Homo sapiens: one gene and its partners. The protein of the gene in region 2 purifies or fractionates together with the protein of the main gene of each other region. This does not show direct contact. Each region holds a gene or a part of one and is shown on either strand. Other genes may lie near its edges.

Evidence for each region.
Region 1: the proteins of TBC1D15 (region 2) and GRAMD4 purify together in Homo sapiens (co-immunoprecipitation; 3 studies listed by BioGRID and IntAct, with this or other methods). This does not show direct contact.
Region 3: the proteins of TBC1D15 (region 2) and UTP15 purify together in Homo sapiens (co-immunoprecipitation; 3 studies listed by BioGRID and IntAct, with this or other methods). This does not show direct contact.

The regions. Positions count from the first base shown.
Region 1 is NC_000022.11:46,618,852-46,622,600, reverse strand, and holds the start of GRAMD4 (GRAM domain-containing protein 4), read right to left. Parts: upstream 2,216-3,749; 5' UTR 2,036-2,215; intron 1-2,035. UniProt on the Homo sapiens protein: Plays a role as a mediator of E2F1-induced apoptosis in the absence of p53/TP53. Plays a role as a mediator of E2F1-induced apoptosis in the absence of p53/TP53. Inhibits TLR9 response to nucelic acids and regulates TLR9-mediated innate immune response.
Region 2 is NC_000012.12:71,916,222-71,919,870, reverse strand, and holds part of TBC1D15 (TBC1 domain family member 15), read right to left. Parts: intron 2,174-3,649; coding exon 2,074-2,173; intron 1,421-2,073; coding exon 1,323-1,420; intron 1-1,322. UniProt on the Homo sapiens protein: Acts as a GTPase activating protein for RAB7A. Does not act on RAB4, RAB5 or RAB6.
Region 3 is NC_000005.10:73,564,123-73,567,871, reverse strand, and holds the start of UTP15 (U3 small nucleolar RNA-associated protein 15 homolog), read right to left. Parts: upstream 2,130-3,749; 5' UTR 1,960-2,129; exon of another isoform or gene 1,686-1,959; intron 611-1,685; 5' UTR 528-610; coding exon 438-527; intron 1-437. UniProt on the Homo sapiens protein: Ribosome biogenesis factor. Involved in nucleolar processing of pre-18S ribosomal RNA. Required for optimal pre-ribosomal RNA transcription by RNA polymerase I.

The DNA of each region.
Region 1 (3,749 bases), on a different chromosome or scaffold from region 2:
TGGCATAAATTACATCTGTGATGCTGAGCGGCTGCCTCCGGACTCGTCTTGTCTAACTGAAACTCTGCTCACTGAATAGGAACTCCCATGCCCTCCCCAAGCCCCCGGTAACCACCATTTTTACTGCTTTTTAATGTTTAAAAAGGAAGGATGAACGGGCTAGGGGAAGTGTAGCAATGTAAAACCTACTTCCTTCCATTTTCAAAAACCCGGCGAGTCCTCCTGGTTGCGGCAGCTGAGAGGGAAGCGGAGGGGATGACCCGGGCGCTGGGGCCTGCAGGCCCTGTGTAGGGCACCGAGCTGGCCTCCACCCAAGGAAAGCAGGGGACACGCTTGGACACGCACAGAACTCTTGGCTGCCTGCAGGGCTCTGGGCAGAGGACAGCCCCCTTGTCTGGGAGGCTGTAATTCCGAGGCCAGGGCTGCCTTCCCAATCACCTCAGGCAAGCAAATGAGGCAATGAGAGAGGGGACAAAGGCCCTGAGTGTCCCGCCTGTCACCATCAGAATGCAATGCGTGCCCCGCCAGTGTCCAGCTACTCCTCAGTCTGCTCTCCCAGCCACCGGCTCAGCCCCAAACCCAGGGTCATCCTGCTGGATGGTTCACAGCGGCCCTTGGGGAGGGCGTCCACACATCAGGGTCCTAGACGACCCTGCTCTCAGCCCCACTGACTCCACCACCCTCCTCACCCAACTCCCTGGGTCCATCAAAAAGACAGACTTTTCAAGCTTCGGTCAGTTAAGAATCAAACTCCATGTCACGACACATGTCACCACACACTGCCAGGGATGGACCTTCCAGCCTTCACCACCAGGGATGGGCCCGGGCTACACTTCCAGCCTGCGCCTGCACCGGGGTAGGGGTGCCCTCCGCGACACAGCGCCAGGGACGGGCCCGGGCTACGCCTCCAGCCTGTGCCTGCACCGGGGTAGGGGTGCCCTCCGCGACACACTGCCAGGGATGGGCCCGGGCTACGCCTCCAGCCTGCGCCTGCACCGGGGTAGGGGTGCCCTCCGCGACACACCGCCAGGGATGGGCCCGGGCTACGCCTCCAGCCTGCGCCTGCACCGGGGTAGGGGTGCCCTCCGCGACACACCGCCAGGGATGGGCCCGGGCTACGCCTCCAGCCTGCGCCTGCACCGGGGTAGGGGTGCCCTCCACGGCCACATGGGCAGCCCCCGCACTGCACTGAAGAGTGCTCCACTGTACACCAGGGTGACTTCATCTCAGTGACATCTGCAAAGAGCCATTTCCAAGTAAGGTCGGGTCCACAGGTACGAGGTGGACATGAATTTTGGGGGAGGACACTATTACCCAGCACACGCCCAACTTACAGATGCAGGAACCAAGGCCCGTCTACACACTGAGCATAGCTCCAGGCTGCACCTCAGGCCAGACCCGGGTCTCCCGACACCGCCCACCTGCGTCTCACCTGCACCTTCCGTCCTGCGTGCTGCAGCCGCGCATCCCCAACCAGACGGCCCCTGCCCTCCCCACTTCTAGCTGCCCATCCCCACCCCCTCCACGGTCCCTGGAGGAAGCCCAGCTCCTCAGCCTGCAGCCCAGCCGCTCTCCCCAGGACCAGCCCCTCCACCTGCACCTACAGGCCCACCCCTGGCAGCCCAGGGCCCCTGCAACTCCGAGCCATGCGGCCCTCTCAGATCGGCCTCCTCCCTCTCGGATGGGCCTCCCTCCCTCTCAGATCGGCCTCCCTTCCTCTCGTCCTGTCAGGTTCTGAGGGGCTTCCTGGGAGGCTCCTCCTCTTGCCGGCCCTCCTGACCAGGCCAGGTTCTCAGGAGGCCTCCACCCTTCCTCACTGGACCCCTGGCCCCGGGCTGCGCAGGTGCTTTACCGGTGGGGTCTGGCCTGCACCCGGCCTTGGGAGGGAGCCTGCCTTTCAAGATCAAGATGGCTCCAGAAGAGCACGTGGTAGCTGGGACCACTGCCCCAGAGAGTAGCAGCTTTTCCCAAGGCTGGGGCTTCCACTCAGATGGGCCCTACCATGTCCCCCTGCCCCCTGCCCCCTGCCCCCTACCTCCGTCTGTCTCAGATACATCCAGAAACACTCTTTCACTGTGGCTCCTTCAGGTCCTGGCCCAGAACCAGGATGTGCTACGAGGACCCAGGAACCATAGCCTCCAAGCCGCCCAACACCAGCAGGCACGGAGAGGGTGGTGTCTGCTGCCCTGGAGCCTGGAGGACTCCAGTCCTGTGCACCAGAGCAGGGCAGCAGGGCTCACCACGGCTGTCCAGGTTCTCCCAGGATCCCCCAGGCTCAGGGCGGCGCCCGGCCAGGCTCCAGGCCCTCTCTGCAAGCAGGACGGAATTGGGCCAGCCAGCCCTGGAACACAAAAGCATGCTGCTCTGGAAACCGCTGAATTGCTTCTGGACACACAAAGGCAACAGTGTCTAGGGAACCCTGGACTCAGAAACCGCAAAGGACTTTATTTCCCCTTCCCCAGCCCAAGATTTAAAAAAAAAAAAGTGGTTCCTGGTCTCTGGCGCTTGCCCTGAGCCGTGTCTCCTTCACACCATCTCCCCTGCTAAAGTTCCTCTCCGAGTTCTGGGTCCCTGGATCACAGCTGACCTCCACATCAGGGCCCGGCTGCTGGCACGCCCTTCATCCCCTTATTATCTGGCGGCTCTCCTGCTGATCCTGGGATAAACAGCATCCGCTTTCCCACAGCCGCCAGCCCTCCTAAGCAATGTCCCTGGGGGACTCGCAGATGTTGAGCGACACAGACACACCTCCCCCACCCCCACTGCAGTGGGCCCCAGCCCCCACCTGGCCCTCCTCCAAGTCTCAGTCCTCTAGGGAAGGTAGCCCCTAAACCTCACTGTCAGAAAGGCCTGGATGGAGGTTAGACCAGCAGCTGGACAGCCAACCTGGGCAGCTGAAGAGGACGTGAGGATGGGGCAGCTGGCAGACTCCAGGGCTTTGCAGAGTGAACAGGAGGACCGGGGGCGGCCAGCAAAGAAGGCCTGGTTCTACCAATACCCCATCGCCAGCCAGGCACCAGGGCTCAGGCCTGTAATCCCAGCACTTTGAGAGGCTGAGGTGGGCAATGCAGTGACACAGAAAGTGAAATAAGAACATGAGCCAGCGTGGTGGTACGTGCCTACAGTCCCAGTTGCTCAGAAGGTTGAGGCAGGAGGATCGCCTGGGAACCTGGGAGTTTGAGGCTGCGGTGAACCACGATCGTACCACTGCACTCCAGCCTGGGTGAGGGCCAGACCTTGTCTCTAAGAACAAAACAAAAACATCCACCCCAATGTCCCCATGCTTACAGCCACATACTTGCACCTCCCTAACTCCTGATGCAAAGAGGCCCAAGGACCCAGCACACACACAGCTCCCTGGGCCCTCTGGGGTCCTGAGACTGCAGATCCTGCCCTTCCAGCCCGTGCCCGACCTTGGCCACTATTGTTCCAACATCAGCCTCAAGAGGTCGGCTCACAACTGATGACATGTGTGCTGCCCCAAACTCAAGGCTTGTCCAGGAGTTTCATCCCCTCCCTGGATTCAGGCCTCAGTCCTGCCAGCTGGGCACAGTCAGGCGGCCTCAAATGCTGATGTCCGTATCCGGGTGTTTGGCTGCTCTCAACCCTGCCCCCTGACCTGGCCTCCCTGCAGGCTCCAAGCCGGACAGCTCACCAGTATCTCAACTATGCCACGCCTGGCACAGACTCGGGTCTCAAGGGGCACTCTGACTGGATGGCACCGTGTCCACCAGCTGTCTGGGTGAAAC
Region 2 (3,649 bases):
TGGTAATAATATTCTTAATTCATCCTTTAAAACCCATTTATGCCTGAGGATGCAATTTTTTGAATTTTTCAATCAGACCTTGGTGATGACCTTGAGCAGTAGGATATAAACAACTCCCACATGCTTAGCGTTCCAATAATGGAACACTAGGCATAAATACATTAACCCATTTTTAACCCCCAAATTAAGACACTAATTTAACAAAACTGATAAACATTTAAGTACGATTCCAGATAGAGACCATGTGGGTTTTACTTCTAATCTGAGAACAGAGGAAGTGAGCATAAAGTAATCCACTTTTAACTTGTAATCAGCACAATGCCTTGTCTAATGGTAGCACAGCCATCAATAGTATAGGAATCCATTTCCAGCTGTAAAAACCTCAGAGACCACTAGAGTTCCACTGTATAAAGTTGGATTTACAATCAAAATGGATTATCTCCCAATTCTTTCCTTGGAAGAATTTCTGTTATCCTAAGGTATGATCAATCATTATACCAGCATTCTATGAACAAGCACACTGGGCTGGACACAGTGGCATACACCTGTAGACCTGTAGTCCCAGCTACTTATAAAGCTGAGGCAAGAGGATTACTTGAGTCCAGGAGTTCGAGATCAGTCTAGGTAACATAGCAAGACCCCTTCTCTTTAAAAAAAAAAAAAAAAAAAGCACACTGATTTATTATTAGCAAATACTTTAGAAAATGTGAAATGATTTGGTTTTTCATTAAAGGTTGCCATGGAAAAATAAACACTGGGGATTACACATGGGGGGATGGTGTAAGGGAAACATGGGATGTAAAATTACCTATTGGGTACTATGCTCACTACCTGGGTGATGGAATCATTCACACACCAAACCTCAGCAACATGCAATTTACCTATGTAACAAACCTGCACATGTACTCCCTGAACCTAAAATAAAAGTTGAAAAAATAAAGAGTTGCCTTGGGTAAAAAATGGAACAAAAGGAGTACACCAAAAACATAAGAATATCCTCTATAACAGATGTGGCAAAGCCTCACATAAAGTCAAGTCTCACAAAGGAAGAACAAAGGCAGCAAATGGTCTAGAGCACTTGTTCTGGGATACCTCTTGGCCCCAAATCTCACAGAGATTGTGATTTGAAGAACGAAGCTCCAAAAGACCAAATATTCAGTGTGAAACTAATTTTTAAGAAGAGGCTACCAGTTCATCAGAATTTTGGAACATACTTGCCTTAGATATTTCAGTAAGGCTATCATAATTCATTTACACTCTACAGAATAAATTGTTTCTTTTCATAATAAATATCACATTTGCATAATAATTTAAGGACTTACCTCCCATAATCGAAGAATATCTAGAAAACTAAATTCCCTTTTGAATCTGATTAAAAGCCACCTGAAGCAAAAATAAAGGTATCCAGAGTCCTGAGATTCTATGCAGAAGAAAAAAACACACATATGACTTACTCTTATGCTAATTATGTCAGAATACAGTTACTTTTCTCTAACTTTCCTATGCATCTTAGGCAATTCAAGGCCCTATACATTTGTCTTCTACGTTAAGGAATCATTTCAAACTTGAAGGCTGACTTCTTTTTAAAAACTAACAAATAATACATTTTACGAATCAAGTTTAAGGCAGAATTATACAAAGAGAGTTTGGTTCCACATTTTTATGGAACCGAAGAAAGTGCAATAGAGTATATATGTCTTTAAGTTCTTTTTTATTGAGACAGTGTCTTGCTATGTCACCCAGGTCGGAGTGCAGTGGAGTGATCCCAGTTCACTGTAGCCTCAACCTCCTCGGCTCAAGTAATCCTCCCACCTCAGCCTCTTGAGTGGCTGGGACTACAGGCATGCATCACCACAGCCAGCATTTTTTTTTCCTTGTAGAGATGGGGTCTCACTGTGCTAGCCAGGCTAGTCTCAAACTCCTGGGTGCAAGTAATCCTCCCTCCTTGGCTTCCAAAGTGCTGGGATTATAGGCATGAGCCACTGCACCTGGCTTCTTTAAAGAGTTCTTTACATTTTTTTCTATGCATTACTCTACAATTTGCTGGGTATAGTTCTGATTCACTAAACTTACCTAAGTAACTGCAAAATCCACTGTCTAACAATCGAAGTAAGGTACTCAGCTGAATTAGCTGGGTCTTCATGCCTTGCATTTGTTCTTCAAAATTCTGATGCTTTAAAAGGAAATAATTGTTACAAGTAATATTTAATAAATATTTTATAGTACATAATGACTGATAACTAAAACATGATGTCTAAGGACAAATGCTGAACTTATACCACACTGGTAATCTTAAAAAATGCGTAACTAACCAAAAATCTAACGTAACACTAAAAGGGAGGGTAAAGAGAAAGAATCCTTGCTCTCAAAACTAAGGATTATTTTTTCCTCTATTCATTTGACTTAGATAAAGAAGAATGCAGACATAGCAACTGCAGACTGACTATTTATTTCTTACACAGCATAAAAGACTTGGTGAAAGAAACACACATTTGGGAAATAAATATTTATCAAATTCTTTCCATTGTTAAATATTCCTTCAAATTATACATAATAAAATTAATTTTAGTTTTAGTATGTATTTCATTTTAAAGAATTACTTTACATTGGAGAATCTGTAAAGCCAAAACCATTTTCAGGACAATACTAAAACATTATCTGGATTTCATACTTAAATTCTTTCACAAGTGCAAAGGCTGTATGATGTGTGATACTCCAAAAGACTGAACACAGAAGCAAATATGAAAATTCAGCTGTCTTCTATTAAACCAGACATTTTTAAAAATGAAAAATTTAAAACAATCTCTTGTGTCGGTAAATTTTTCATTAGGAAAGGTTACTTTTCATTAAAAAAAAGTGATCTATGTTAAGGTAGAATGTGTTGTTATTTAATGAATTAATAAATAAATGAATACAAGTTTCTCAGTATTAATTTTTCACATAAACATCAACAGATATAACCCACATAAACAAAAACTCTTTCAGGTCTTCAATAATATTGGAGAGTGTGAAGGGGCCCTGAGGTCACAAAGTTTGGGAACTGCTGGGGTTCATATGCTTTAAAGAAACTTCATAGTTGAGTAGACTCCCTACCAACACCTGAGTCAAGGGGCCAGAAGGCACCAAAACTGATGCTCTGAAAGGCTTCTTAAATGATTTGGATCCCTTTAACTCATATGTCCCGATCCCTCTGTGGTAACCTACCGCCCTAACCCTAGTGAAAGCCTTAGAAAAACATTTCCTCCTTCACACTTACTTTTTCACTTTTACAGTACAATAGTGCTTTATTAGAACTATCATATTAGAAACAATTCATTCTTAAAAAAAATTTAAGTCTATTAATTCTCAATAAGCTGTTTCTCTTTAATGAATTTTAAAAACCAGTTTATTAATAGACTAACTCAAGGCTTTAGGATATAGTTCCTCCACATTTACCAGAGAGATCTATAGAGAAGGGGCAGAATCAACTCTGATTAACAGGATCATTTTTGCTGTGACACAGTCAAAGACTAGAGCTGATCTGGGAATACCAACATGGCATAGACATTTGCTACCCACTCTGCTGTAAAAAAGAAACATGTCCATAATGACAGACACCATATTCGAAAAAGTGGTTACTCCTGGAGAAGGGAGAGTGGGATCAACAATG
Region 3 (3,749 bases), on a different chromosome or scaffold from region 2:
GCTTCTTTTCACTTAGTAACACATATTAGCTTTCATAGGAGCAATAGACTTACCATCCATTATAAGGGCACACTGTAATTTACTATACCAGTCCACTACTAATAGACATGGGTTTTTCAAGATTTCTACTATTACAAGCAATACTTCAATAAACATCTTTACACATATGAGATTCAAATTTTAAAATTTAATTCATTTGGCATTGATTGATCATCTGTTCTGTGCTAGGCATTTGTATGGTTAATCTGATTAAGCAGTATGGACTTTTACATAAAATTCCAAGAAAAAATAGATATCAAATTATCTGCCCAAACTATAAGCTGCTGATAGATGGTTTTCAGTTAATAATTCTCTGTTAGAGCATCCAGAGTATAACATATGCTAGAGAAATTGGCATAAACACAAATCCCTTCTCCCTCATTACGTCCCACACTCACCTTATAGTTGTTCCAGTACAGTGTATCTTGGGTGATTTTTTCACCAAGTATAGGATATGTCTGAATAGCTACAGGCTTATAACCAGCCATAATTCCATATAATTGCACTATTGTCCAAGAGTCACTATTTTGGAATTGGTATTAGAAATAATTACAGTGACTCTGCCTTAATTCTGAAAAATAAAATATTTTATATACATATTATAAGCTTGTACACATAGTTGATTTTCACTCTGCTTTCTTTAAAAAGTCTGTGTGGAAGTATATAGATTAGAGACCAATAAGCCATTTAATTCTAACCCAGAAAAGGCAATCTATAGGAAGCAGGAATAATTAAAGTGAAGGCTATCATATCGCACCATCTATTCAGCTGTACACAAAGGTTCTCACACCTAGCCAACCATTTTACAACACTTAGGAATAAATCTAGCACAGCCTTACAGTAGCCAAACCAAAAAGGATCATGCTGGCTTTGAGTGTCCATTTTTTGGCAACAGGAAATATTAAGGTGAAACTGCAAATACAAGTTTCCTGAAACCAAGTTTAAGATGACATTTAATCTATAACAATTATAGTTACGGATTTGATTTCCTGAAAGCCTAAAAATGCCAAGAAGTAAGAAACACAAAGCTAATATTCTAATGTAGAAGCTTAAAATTAAATTTACTTTAAAAGGTTTAAACAGTAGGAAAGAAAACTGTAATAAAGCAGTCCTGAAATTAAATTCAACACTAAAGTGGCAGAATAGGATAAAACTTTTAAATAACATGCAATCAAGCCAAAACATTTTTCCAGAACGACTCAATTGCAAAAGAGATTCAATGTTATCAGGTAAATGATTCCAGAGGTGCTGCTCATCATCTATTCCAAAAAGCCTGAAAACTTTACATTAGTAACACCACGATAAATAGGTGTAACATATATTTAAAAGGTGCTTTAATGAAATACAATGACCAATGATTGTATTTCACTGGTCTTTGGGAACACTCTTCTGTTCATTAAAGTACCTACCAATGTGCAGGACACTGCTCTAGGCACTGGGGCTATAATGGTGAATGAAATAAAGACATGGTCTGTGCCTTTGCTTACTCCAATATACTCCATTTTGGCTGGTGACTGGCACCAGATATTAACCTAGACTCAGCCTTGACGTGTCCTTTTCTTCCTCACTCCTAACATCCAAATAGTTAACAAGATCTGCTGATTTTATCTCCCAAATATTTTAAAACTCCATTAGGTTCACTTCACCTGAGGGAGCCTCGTAAGCAAAGGCAAAGATGGAAATGTGTCCATTGCCTTGGAGAGTTGCTGATTACTCCGGGAACTAACAACGGTGGACAGGAAAGGGTGTAATCGCAGAGAAGAACCTAGGTCGAAGCTTAATTGAGGGGAACTTGAGCCGGTTAAAGAATTTGGCCACTCTCCTATATAGCCTGGGAAGCCCCAGAAGAGCATGCCAGATTAACACAGGAAGGCCGGGTGTGAGTGTGGGCTTCCCTCAATGGGAGCCGCCTTCACCTACCTCCACTGAGCCCCAAAGGGTCCGACGAGACACCTCGACCCAAGGACAATTAATCGGACTGTGCCAGCTCCCTACCCTGCACAGTTCAGCAGCACTGGCGTAAAAATCACATGGACCCTCAAGGAGCCGGCGACACACACAGCGAACCGAACGTCGCGCGAAGATGACGTACCAGAGCACGCTCATGAGACTCACGCAGCCCGGCGGCGCAGAGGCGGGTCAGGTGGGCGGGGCGATCTGGAGTAGGAGGTGTGACCGGAGGGCGAAATTGGGGCTTCCTCTGCTCTGGTGACCCAGAACCGTCAACTGAAATGACCCTGTCTGTGTAGTACTCCGGCAGGATGGGCCTCGGAGCGTAAAGGCGGCAAAAACAAAAATATTAAAAAAAAGGAGAGAGGGACAAAAAAAAGAAAACCCGAAAGTTTCAGCTGCATTGCTGCGGAACGTTTTTTAGCCAGAAGGCGAAAGAAGAAATCGGAAGTGACGTCGCGGCCAAAACAAGCCCGGGCTTGGAGGCCTGTACTGAAGCTGGCCTCAGATGGGAAGGCCCGACTCGCTGTCTGCTGTCGTCGGTGGTCGCGAGACCTTGCACTCTCACCGGGTCGGCCTCCAGCCCCTGTGCCCGGGATCCGCTCGCCGCGGATGAGCGAGAGTTTCTTCCTGGGACTTTTCGGGCACAGCTGGCCGGTGGCGACAGAACGGACTTTCTTTCCTGCAAGAGTCTCCCCTCCAGCGGGAGACAGCGGGCTCCTGTCTCGGGACGCTGGGACACCTGTCGCCTGTGAGGCATCATTTATTTTCATAGCACCTTCCTCTCCTTGTAGAATAATTCCAGGATCAGGAAGAAACGAGGGGCTCCTGTTATTAGCATCCACAGGAACTAGCATAGCTGCCCACTTTATCTCCGTAGACTCTCTATCCCTTCATCCCTGGGCTCTGACAGATCGAGGTGAACCTAGCTATCGATTGCCTTACCCCCTTTTTCTCACCACCACCTCTTCTAAGTCCTGTTACCCCACTCCCCTCACCCCCGCCTCCCTCTCCTGTTCTTCAAAATTTTGGCCTACCAATCAACTTTGCTTCTCCTCTCGTTAAACTGCTGTGCCAAGATAAGCGTTCATTTTCCACCCACCCCCTTCGCCTAAGCACATTTGCTATTCTCCTCTCGAAGACCTGTAATTCCATCTATAAACCCTGATTTGTAACATGGAAGCTGTTTAGAGCTGGAAAGAATATTAGAAAGGCCTATTTCAACACCTTTTTATAATAGATGAATTTCAGAAAACTTGTATTATTTATTTGTCCAGGAGTGGCCAGCTAGTTAGTAGCGATGTTGGGAGTGGAAAGCCAGGTCTAATCAGCAAATGTTAGAAATAGAAAAGAATATGGAAAAAATTGTTAAAGTTAAGATCAGAAAACATTTATGGAGCACCTGGTAGGACCAAGTACTGTTCTGTGTGCAAAAATTAGTAAGAGTGGTCCCCATCCTAGGGGAGTTTTCAATTTAGCTGTTATTTAAATGGAAATTGTCAAAAGGATGGTGAATGCTAAAATACAGATACATGCAGGGTGCTCAGAGAGCTTAGGGGAGTTGCACTTAGCCAACCGCTGGATAGGAGAAAGGGGGAGATGGTTCTTCCCTCAGGAAACACAGTTCACATTGTCCAGTCCCTTTTAAGACGCATGGACTAATGCATTGCACATCCATCTCCCTTTGAATCACTGAACTAATTTTCTTTTCTGGTTTCCTTCTTTTTGCCCAAATGTATTAACCTTCTTACTTCCTGCTT